Regions from separate parts of the Homo sapiens genome. Here region 1 is linked to region 2. Evidence: fine-mapped expression QTL. A gene starts in region 2. The other region holds a variant in brackets. All regions are shown on one strand. Distances are between the middles of the regions.

Region 1 (5,378 bases), 190 kb after region 2:
ATATGGGCTTGGTCCAGGAATGGTGACTCATGCCTATAATCCCAACACTTTGGGAGGCCAAGGCAGGAAAATTGCTTGATCTCAGGAGTTCAAGAGCAGCCTGGGAAACATAGCAAGATCTTGTATCTACTAAAAACCAAAGAAAGAAATAAAGAATTAGTCAGGCATGGTAATGCACACCTGTAGTCCCAGTTAATCAGGAGGTTGAGGGAAGAGGATGGCTTGAGCCCAGAAGGTCAGGGTTGCAGTGATCTATGATTGTACCACTACACCCCAGCCTGGGCAACAGAGCAAGACCCTGTCTCAAAAAATTATATGTATGTATCTGTCTATCTATCTATCTATATCTATCTATATAGATATAGATATAGATATGCACATACATACACACACACACACACACACACACACACACACACACACACACTTGTTTGCATGGAAGCTGGAGTGGCCATTAGACCCAGTCTGCAAAGTGGTGGAAAGCTATCCATTCTCCAATACAAAGGGACAGACTCAGCTGTGGCTTTTACCCTTCTCCTTTCCCTTTCTCCTGACTGGAACTCAAAGTCAATGCTTGAAGGTGAACGTGAAGAGCCATTTTTTGACCATGTAGTTGGAAGTCCCATGCAATAGAAAGCAGAAAATCCCTAAGGTGAAGCTGGGTCACAAAAGATCAGAACTGCCCAAGGCTGTTCCAAGTCTGTTTGACGCTGAAGCAGCCCAAGCTACCTAATGAACTGTGAAGCCACTACACCCAGCCCCAGCTAGTCAACCCCTTTTTGGTTAAGTCCTGTAGCAGAGTTGCCTTCGCATGTTGTAAAAAGCAATCCTAACTTGACACACAGGTTGAAAGTGAGAAGAGAGGAGCTGAGGAAGGCAAACTGTGCTGTGATGAATATGATGATGCAGTCAGCTCAGCTGCTGGTAAGGATTGGTGCCACCACGTCTTCATCTGCCCATCTATCTCCTTCTCCCATCCACCCTGTCCCATTCTCCTCAACCCCCAGGGCAAACACTGCTGCAACCCTAACTTGTATCCCTTTTCCCATGATAACTCCAAATAAAATCAAACGTTCTCATCATTGGAAGGAGAGGGTGTCCAGTTACAATTTCCCTTTCAAAAATGCACTAACACTCAAGCTAATCCTCAGGAAATGCTCCATTCTAGATAGCTGAGTTTTCTGAATTGGTCGAGTTTTATTAATTCCACCTTAAACTACCCAAACTCTTTAAGCCTTTAAGCAAAATTCATGAAAATCTATCACACATTTTTCTGTATTTTAAAATAAGGTATACAAAACATAATTTTCATAATAATTTGAGGTCATTAAATGCCAAGATACGTGGAATTTTGACTTGGGAAAAACCTTAGAGAGCAATTCTAATGGAAGCATTTTCTTTTGGAACCTCAGAGAAGGTTGTTAGCTTGCCCACAGTCACTCAGCTAGTGGGTTATCACAGTGAGCCATTATTATATGATCCAAAACACAGTGATTCCCTTAAGACTGGTAAAGGTCATTTATATGGTTTGGATATTTGTTCCCTCTAAATCCCATGTTGAAATGTGATCTCCAGTGTCAAAGGTGTGGCCTAGAGGTGTCTGGGTCATGGGGGCAGGCTTGGTGCCATCCCCATAGTAATAAGTTCTTGCTCTATGAGCTCATGCAAAGTGTGGTACTCCTCCCATTGCTCTCCCTCTCCCTCTCATGCTGTGTGGCATGCCTGATCCTCCTTTTGCCATGGGAGCCCTCACCAGAAGCAGATGCTGGCGCCATGACTCTTGTCCAGTCTGCAGAACCATTAGCCAAATAAACTTCTTTTCCTTATAAATTACCCAGCCTCATGTATTCCTGTATAGCAACACAAAATGGACTAATAACCAGAATGTTCTCCTCTTACATCAAATGTGTATTGCATATTCTCTGTCTCCTTTTTATACTTTCTCCGTAATTTCTTTCAACTTTCAGCTGCCCCCTTTTCCCTATAAAAGTATACTTATCTGCAGTTTCCCTTGTCAAGAGTATTAAAGGTCTGCATAAAGTAAAAGCTAATACTATCCTGAGGGAGGGCTTCAGTGCAAAGTTCTCTGAGTACAGACTCTGTCAGATACAAGTCATTTCCTCCTGTGCCTTTGGGGAGTGCTGATTTGTTCCAGGAAACAAAGACCCTTGAAATAGTCTAGGTCCCAGAATAGGATTTAATATGTTTTAAGCTGTAGGAGGGAAACTGCTGAATTTAAACAAAAATTTAAACAAGAATGTTGAGTCCTGTTGGATTTTATACCATCAGAAAGGCCAATATATAAGTGCAGACAAATA[C/T]GTTTTATACTGAAAGACTTTCATTAGAATCTTTCAAAAGGCCAACTCCAGAAAATATGAATTTTTTTGAAGAGACCGTAGGTGTCAGTGCAGAAGATATTTGCACAGGCCTGCATAACATGTACAGTATCTTGACTATCTTGCTTCCCCCCCCTTTTTTTTTTTTTGAGACAGTCTCACCCTGTCGTCCAGGCTGGAGTACAATGGTGTGATCTCAGCTCACTGCAATCTCCACCTCCCGGGTTCAAATGATTCTCCTGCCTCAGCCTCCTGAGTAGCCAGGACTACAGGCACCCGCCACCAGGCCCAGCTAATTTTTGTATTTTTAGTAGAGATGGGGTTTCACCGTGTTAGCCAGGCTGGTCTCAAACTCCTGACCTCATGATCTGCCCGCCTCGGCCTCCCAAAGTGCTGGGATTACAGGCGTGAGCCACCGCACCCGGCCCTATTTTTATTTCCCCTATAAACTCTACTATGACACATCCTCTAAGTCAGGCATTCCCAAACCGTGGGTGGCAGCTACTGTGAAGGGTCTCCCAACCAAATATACCCCCAGCTGTCTGAAGACCAAATAAATGAGGTTACACACATATGTAAACTATTATTCTGAAAACGTCTATAGATGCTATTGCGGTCAATAGAATTCAAATTCCTTGTTTATGTTGTCATTCACTCACAGCAGCTTTCTGTAACTGAGCATTTTCTCCAGCTGAAGTGACACTATAGGGCAGGAGAGGATGCATGCAGCCTGGGAGAGCTCAGAGGTTACCACCATAAGCCATTCCCTACGCTGGCCACTCACCTCCTTGTTGCCACTTATTTGAACACCGTCTATCTCTAGACCACCTTAAGAACTCTGAAGAGGCCTTTCCAGAAAATGCTACCTTTACAATGACCCTTACCATCTCCTCCGGTCTAGGGTTTGCCTTTTATATTTTAGTTGTCCTTTCAGACATTCATGTCTTCTCATAATACAAGTATTGTTTTGTTTTGTTTTTTTTGAGACAGCGTCTCACTCTGTCACAGCCTGGAGTGCAGTGGCGTGATCACAGCCCACTGTAGCCTCGAACTCTTGGACTCAGGTGACCTTCCCACCTCAGCCTCCCAAGTAGGTGAAACTACAGGTGTGTGCCACCACACCTAGCTAATTTTTGTACTGTTTTTGTAAAGAGGGGGTTTTGCTATGTTACCCAGGCTGGTCTCAAACTCCTGGGCTCAAGCAATCCGCCCACCATGGCTGCTCAAACTGATGGGATTACAGATATGAGTCACCACACCCGGCCATAATACAAGTTTTTATTTTAGGTGAGGATGTTTTCCCTTCCAGAAAGCTTATGAATGCTTCCTCAGTTTCCCCTTTGAATTCCCAACAGCACTCTGCATGTGGAGAAAACAAATATTTTATATTTCCCCTACACTAATATCCACTTAAACCTGATATCGAATAGAAAGAACATGGGCCTTGGAATCTTTACCAAACCCAGGTCTGAATTCCCTGTGACTGTGTGTGTGTCTCTTAATCTCTCTGAGACTCAATTTCTCCTAAGACAAAAAAGAGAGTAGATATACTCTACTTTATACAACTGCCAAGAGGAATCTACGAGGTAATGAGGGTAAAAGTACGAGCAAAAAGGTTGTCAGAAGATAAACTCAAGGAATGTTTACAAAAATTACTTAAGACATGAAAAGAAAACTCAATTCTTTTTTTCCCTTTCAAATTTTAATTCAAGCTGGCCGGGCACAGTGGCTCACACCTGTAATCCCAGCACTTTGGGAGGCTGAGGCAGGTGGATTGCCTAAGGTCAGGAGATCAAGACTAGCCTGACCAACATGGTGAAACCCTGTCTCTATTAAAAATACAAAAATTAGCCAGGCATGATGGTGGGCACCTGTAATCCCAGCTACTCTGGAGGCTGAGGCAGGAGAATACTTGAACCCAGGAGGTGGGCATTGCAGTGAGCCAAGATGGCGCCACTGCACTCCAGATTCGGTGATGCAGTGAGACTCCATCTCATTAAAAAAAAAAAAATTTAGTTAAAGACAGAGAGGTTTCATTCAACTACTGTATTAGTCTGTTTTTATGCTGCTGATAAAAACATACCCAAGATTGGGAAGAAAAAGGTTTATGGACTTACAGTTCCACATGGCTGGGAGGCAAGGAGGAGCAAGTCACATCTTACATGGATGGCAGCAGGCAAAAATTCCCATTTTTAAAACCATCAGATCTCATGAGACTCATGCACTATGAGAACAGCACAAGAAAGACCCACCCGCTCCCATAATTCAATCACCTCCCACTGGGTTCCTCCCATGACACATGGGAATTGTGGGAGTTACAATTCAAGATGAGATTTGGCTGGGAACACAGCCAGAGCATATCAACTACTTGTTGATGCGGAAGAGATGAAATGGAAGACAGAAAAGATGCATTGCAAGAGAATGCAAAGTGGAAGTGTCTTTGACTCCATAAGGGGCTCAGGGCCTGAAGATTTAAAGCCCCACTATAGGAAGATGCCCCCTCCCAGAACTGAGCTGCTGCAGCTACCACACAGATGCTCAGGCTGAGGGTTGTGGGCACCCAGGTAAGCAGCTGACTGAGAAATATGAAATTTTAATTTACCTCCACCTGTAACTGTGGGGCTGATATTCCATGCTTCCTTTGGCTCAAAACCCCTTCCCTGAAATTGCATATATTTTCTTTTTAAGCAGAAGAGCTGAAATGATATCAGTGAAAAGAATGAGGTTAGCTGGGGAGGGTCTGAAAATATCCAAGCAGTAGACACTGGATAATAATCAAACCCACTCCCTACCTCACTATCCTACATCACTGATTCTCAATCCCCATTCTCCAGATCCCGCACCTCTGGAAATGCCTGGAGACATTTTTGGTTGTCACACCTGGGGGATGCTATTGGCACCTAAGGCTGGGGATGTTGCTAAACATTTTACAATACACAAGATAGCCCCCAACAACAGAGAATTATCCGGTCAAAAACGTCAGTAGTGCCGAGGTTGAGAAAACCTGCTCTACACAAACAATTTGGGTTCATTCTTCTCATT
Region 2 (5,378 bases):
AGAATATATCTGATGTTAGCCCCTAGCAAATAAGTATTATTACAACTCACTTTATAGAAGAGGTAACAGAATTCTAGATCTTTAATAAAGGGATTGGAATCTTTCAGTTTCTTACAGTTTTTTTTTTCAACCACAAGAACACAGTTTTCCAGTAGGCAAAGAGAGATGTAACGTTTACTGAGCATTTACAAAGAGTCAAGCACATATGTTATCTGTCATTCTCATAGACCGCGTATTACACAAACAGAGATCTAGGCTTTTGCTCAAGGTCACAACTATAAGTGGTAGAAGAGAATGATATCCAGGTCTGTCCACACAAAAAGCTCTGGGTAGAGCTTGTTCAACAATTTCATAAATAAGGATAGACTTAAAAAAACACACTGGACCTATGGGATGAGAAATGACACTGACTCAAGCCTGGATGAAGTAAAGCATGCAGTTTGGGGGAGGGCTCAGTCTGCAGGCCTCTGCCAGCAGCAGCTGAAGAAAGTGACCTTTACTCCAAACCCTACAGTGCGACAAACCACCCATCCAGCTCTGCCTAGAGTGGGTTAATATGCCACAATTCGAAAAGAGAAAGAGAATGAGTGTTTCATGGTGGCCCCAGACAGTTTGGTGGCCGCAGAAGTTGAGAAGGCTCAAATCTGGAGATCAGGTTTGGGTTGGAGTCGTGCGTAAGGGAGCGGATGTCACATAGGTGGGGAAGGGAGCTGACTTGAGATACGTTGGCTTAGGAAGAGATGTTGCAGGAGAGAGGGTGAAATGCACAGGCTAGGAGAGTAGACGGCTTCACTTGAAGGGAAGGGATTGGGGCTGTGGATGCCTCTAGAGGCAGTTGTCAGAGGGCCTCTAAAAGGTCCATTTTAGAGGAAGCGAGAAGGAAGGTCTCGATAAGGAGCCATTCAGGGTCCATTACCTGCTGGATGGTTGTACAACGGCCTCAATTTCTCGGGCAGCATCAGCTCCACTTTATCGAGGAGCCGGTGGTAGGTGGCCCGCAGGCCTCGGGCACCGGCGGCCGACATCGCCGCCGAGGGATCGTTGGCAGCCGGGTGGGAGCGTGGCTGTGTTCTCGTCCCTGGCTGACAACGAAGGGGAGCTAGTCACTTTTCCTGCCACGACGACTCGCGTCCGCCTCTCGCCTGGAGTACCCTTCCCGCGGCTTTCCCTGCCCGCTGTGAACCGAAAAGCTGCGGCCCGCGCCCCGCGAAGGTTGAGGGGGCGGAGGCTGCCGACTGCCAGCCCCCGGTCCGCCTCCGGCCCCCGGCAGGAGAGAGGGAGGAGCCATGGCAACAGGTGCCAAAATAATCACCTCACCAAGTCTGCGCTGCGCCCTGCTGGCAGCGCGCTTGCGCAGGCCGAGCTGCCCGCCATGATTGGCCCGCCCCGAGGCGCGGGCGGGGTCGAGCGGAAACCTCCTCCTTCTCCCCATGCCCTCGAGGCCATGTTGGAGAAGGGAAAGTGAAGCTGCGCTGGTTCTACTGCCCTTTCACTTTGATTAAGCAGGCCCGTAGTTAAAATGGGTTTTTGGGCCTTCAGTGCCTAAAGATGATGCCGCACAATTCTCTTGCTTCTTTTCACTGGAGACTCGTGAGCGAGAGACTACAGAATTGAGTAGCTTCTCTCTCTACTCGTCTTTTATCCCTAGCGACTTAAGGATCTGGTTAGAGTGGCCCGAATGCATTCTTCCAGGGTGAGGGCAGCCGCAGCACACACCAGCCTCAGTCCCCAGGGTGGTCGTCATCTCGCGAGAAAGGGTTGGCGGGGAGGGTATCCAGGACGAGGAGAGGGAGGAGTCGCCATCGCCTCCGCCTCCGCCTCCTCCTGTTGGAGGGGGGCTGAGGGAGGAGACTGTTGCTGATCTTTGGATGTTCTGGTTAGTCTAAGAAGGAGAGTATGAGGCGAGCTCCGGCCCGGGTGCGGCCGGGCTTCAGGGGCCCAGGCGCCGCTGCTGCCACCGCCATCTAACGCTGCGCCCTGGAGGCCCGGCGCGCGGATGGTGCCGGTGCGGCTCGGGTGTTGAAACGGGTGTCCCCTCCCCCTCCTCCCCTCCCCCACGCGGTGGTCTCCCCTCCCACCCGGCTCAGGCAGAGCCATGTCTCGGGGTGGCTCCTACCCACACCTGTTGTGGGACGTGAGGAAAAGGTCCCTCGGGCTGGAGGACCCGTCCCGGCTGCGGAGTCGCTACCTGGGTGAGCGGGGGCCCCGGGGCGGAGGCGCTGAGGTCGCCGCCTAGAGTGGGGGAGGGGGCACGCTGCCGGGTCTGTTGGAGGTGGGACGGCGTCTCGGTGGGGGCGCCCGGAGACTCTGGGGTGTTGGGTGGGGCCTTGGTTGCCGAATTCCGTGCCGGTGCCTCCCCCAGTCAAGCCCCCTGTGCATGCTGCCAGCCGCCGCCCTTGCTGGGTTTTTCTCGGAGGGCCGGGCCGTGGGCAGAAGGTACTGGCTTGTAAAGGTGTTGGGGTCGCTGATGGGTTGGGACTCGGGAGACTTGCGGAACCTCCAGGAGCTGCCGCGTTTAGAGCAAAAGTTAGCTCTTTTGCTCTTTTCCAGCGCGCTTTCCCCGCTCAGCCGAAGAACCTAAGTTGTTGCCCACCCTCTCCTTCAATCTCCAGAGGGTTTAGGTGTCGGCTGCGACGCGTTGACCACCCTCAGGGACTTCACGCTCCAGACAGAATCCGTGTAAACTGTTTTTGCGGCGCTGAGCCAAAACCTAAAAGTGATAGCTGAGCTCTCCCCACCCCCGCGCGCTCTCCCAGTTCCACTCTGCTCTTCAGTTCGTTTTGACCGCTTAAAGGTGGTGTAGGGTTTCACGTTCCTCTTCCCACCCCTGGAAAACACACTTGGCATTTACAGTTTCGTAGTTAAGCTTTCTAAAAACAACCTTCAGTACTTGGGGGAACAGTATTCCACTTTTTTCGTTTTGCATAACATTTTTTTTTTGAGGATTCTAGGTCACGCCCGAGTCAACTAAAAAGTTTGGTTTCTTAAAAATGGACGTACTTAGTAAAGGTCTTTTTTGTTTCTTCCTGTATACTCTTCATTACTCTTTCTTTCTATTTGGAGATACGGCAAACAACATCATAAAATTTTTTTCTTTCCAGTTTTGCCACTTGCTAGTTAAAAAGTGTTTGTTGCTCTCATTTGTTTTTGATTTCAAGTAAAGAGAAGAAAATGAAATCTCATTACAACCAACAGTTCTGGTTTGTAAATTATTTAAGAAAAGTTAGCATGCAATTTTTTAATTCTTTTTAGTGTCTCAAGTAAAATACGAATACATTTTGTTTATAAAAACTCAATAAAAATGAAGCAAAAATCCCTTTGATCCCTCCCATTCAATTTCACTCCGCCACCCTTAGAAATAATATTTTCTGTTTTCTGAATATTCTTCCAGACCTTTTTGTTTGCATTCTTACAAGTACATATGTACATGTACAAATGCTGGGGTGTGTGTGTGTTTGTGTGTGTATGAGAGAGACACCTGAGTGCATGGTGTCATATTGTAAACATTGTTTTCACTTCTCCACATTTTGGAGATCTTTCCATGGCAGTAAAAATAGATTGATTCTGTCTTTTAAATTATTACATAGTAGGTAACATTATGAAGTACCATAGGGTACTCAACCTTTCTTCTTTAAGTAGACGTTCGCCCTTACAGCATTTTAATGAACATCATTCTACAAGCTTCTGTGCATTTGTTGTAGGATAAGTACCTAGAGTGGTGATTAATCATTTTAAAATTGAACATAGCTGGAGTCTGGTTTTTAAAACTATTTACCAAAAAAAGTGTGCAGTATTTCTTTTAGAATTTATTTGCGGAGAAAGAACTTAATTTTAGCTTAATAAAACAAACGTTAACATTGTTTTGCATGGATACATTTATAATTTGGTCCTTTATCTCAGTTGGACAGTTTAAGTACTTGTATATAGTTCTATATTTTAGTGTTTTCTTTTGGTTCAGTTACTTCAGCTATATCTACAAACGAGTTAATTAAAATATAACAAAACCATATACCTGCTTTTCCCCCTCCTACTCCAACTCCCTAATGGAAATGGAATTTGTGTATTGGGTCTAGGGGAATTGAAGGGTTCACTGACTATATTAGAAAGCCTGAATTACAGTTTTTCAAATGTGTATGTATACATACAGGGAGTTCTTTATCTTAAATAATATTTTAGATATGATAATATATACTCTTAAAATAGGACATTTTTGGAATGACTTCCTTTAAAAGTGGTTTTCTAAGTACTTGAAAATACTTTTTGAAAGTATCGAAACTTGAAAATGTTTGCAAAGAACTAATTTATTGGCCTTTACCCTTAGTAGACCTTTACACTGTTATTCAGCTCTTCTATACTACAGTGCTAATCCTGGCTTTGCATTCAGGAAGCAGCAAAATCCACATTGGTAATGTTTGAATTAGTGATGGTTTTTTTTAAAAAATGACTTTCCCTCCCAGTTTTATTGGGGTATAATTGACAATTAAAAATTGTTATATTTAAGGTGTAGGACTTGATAACTTCATATACAATCAAGTTAATTAACATATCCATCATGTCACATAATTACCATCTTTTTTTGTGTGTGGCGATAAAATGACTTTATCATTATTATTAATTTTATTTTTATTATTAGATAAAATGACTTTTTAAAGTACAGTACTCTTGGCCGGGCGCGGTGGCTTACGCCTGGAATCCCAGCACTTTGGGAGGCCAAGGTGGGTGATCACTTGAGGTCAGGAGTTTGAGACCGGCCTGGCCAACATGGTGAAACCCTGGTCTTTACTAAAAATACAAAAATTAGCCGGGAGTGGTGGCGTACGCCTGTAGTCTCAGCTCCTTGGGAGGCTGAGGCAGGAGAATAGCTTGAACTTGGGAAGTGGAGGTTGCAGTGAGCCAAGATTGTGCCACTGCACTCCAGCCTGGGCGACAGAGGGAAACTCTGCGTCATAAATAAATAAATAAATAAATAAAGTATGGTACACTTATAAAGCCTTCCTTTTAAAAGTCAAATTCCAAGTTAGGATTTTCCTAAGGAAATAGATTCCTTTTTTAAAAGACTTCAATATTTAAACATTACGATTGTCTATCTACAGGGTTGTAGATTTAAGTATTTTTCTGATACATTTTCATTATTTGTATTTCTACAGATTTTTTAGCAGTGAATTACTGCTAAATAGTAAAATTGGGATAGAACAAATAGATAAATTTTTCTTGTAGCCTTTACATTTCCAGTTATTTCACCATAGCATGTGCCCTTTCAATGTTAATATTCAAGCTTTGTAATTGATTTTACTTAAACTGATTAATTATCTCCTTTCTTCCCATCAAAGAAAATTATACTTCAGAAAACTTCCTATTATGTTGTGGGAATGAAGATG

Which allele goes with the higher level. Alleles are on the strand shown, and positions count from the first base shown. SD is a standard deviation of normalised expression in the study named.
For the expression in lung of the gene that starts at base 2,256 in region 2, allele C in region 1 goes with a higher level than allele T (moderate effect, 0.42 SD a copy in GTEx).

Evidence for each region. PIP is the estimated chance that this variant, and not a neighbour inherited with it, causes the effect. A credible set is the group of variants that fine-mapping cannot tell apart.
Region 1: its variant is the best candidate, but not a certain one, in a credible set for the expression of MPC2 in lung (GTEx, PIP 0.53).

The regions. Positions count from the first base shown.
Region 1 is chr1:168,123,153-168,128,530 of GRCh38, forward strand. The region is part of intron 1 of GPR161 (G protein-coupled receptor 161); the gene reads right to left. Among named protein-coding and RNA genes, the nearest start is that of GPR161, 11 kb to the right of the region's middle. The variant C/T (reference allele first, on the strand shown) is at 2,319.
Region 2 is chr1:167,934,817-167,940,194 of GRCh38, forward strand. It overlaps MPC2 (mitochondrial pyruvate carrier 2), which reads right to left and starts at 2,256. Exons shown (of 6, transcript NM_001143674.4): 1 at 2,123-2,256; 2 at 917-1,082. The coding sequence starts at 1,025. DCAF6 (DDB1 and CUL4 associated factor 6) reads left to right here and starts at 1,867. Exons shown (of 22, transcript NM_001198956.2): 1 at 1,867-2,192. The coding sequence starts at 2,096. RefSeq lists enhancers at 883-992, 1,443-1,752 and silencers at 1,163-1,332, 1,933-2,002, 2,033-2,272.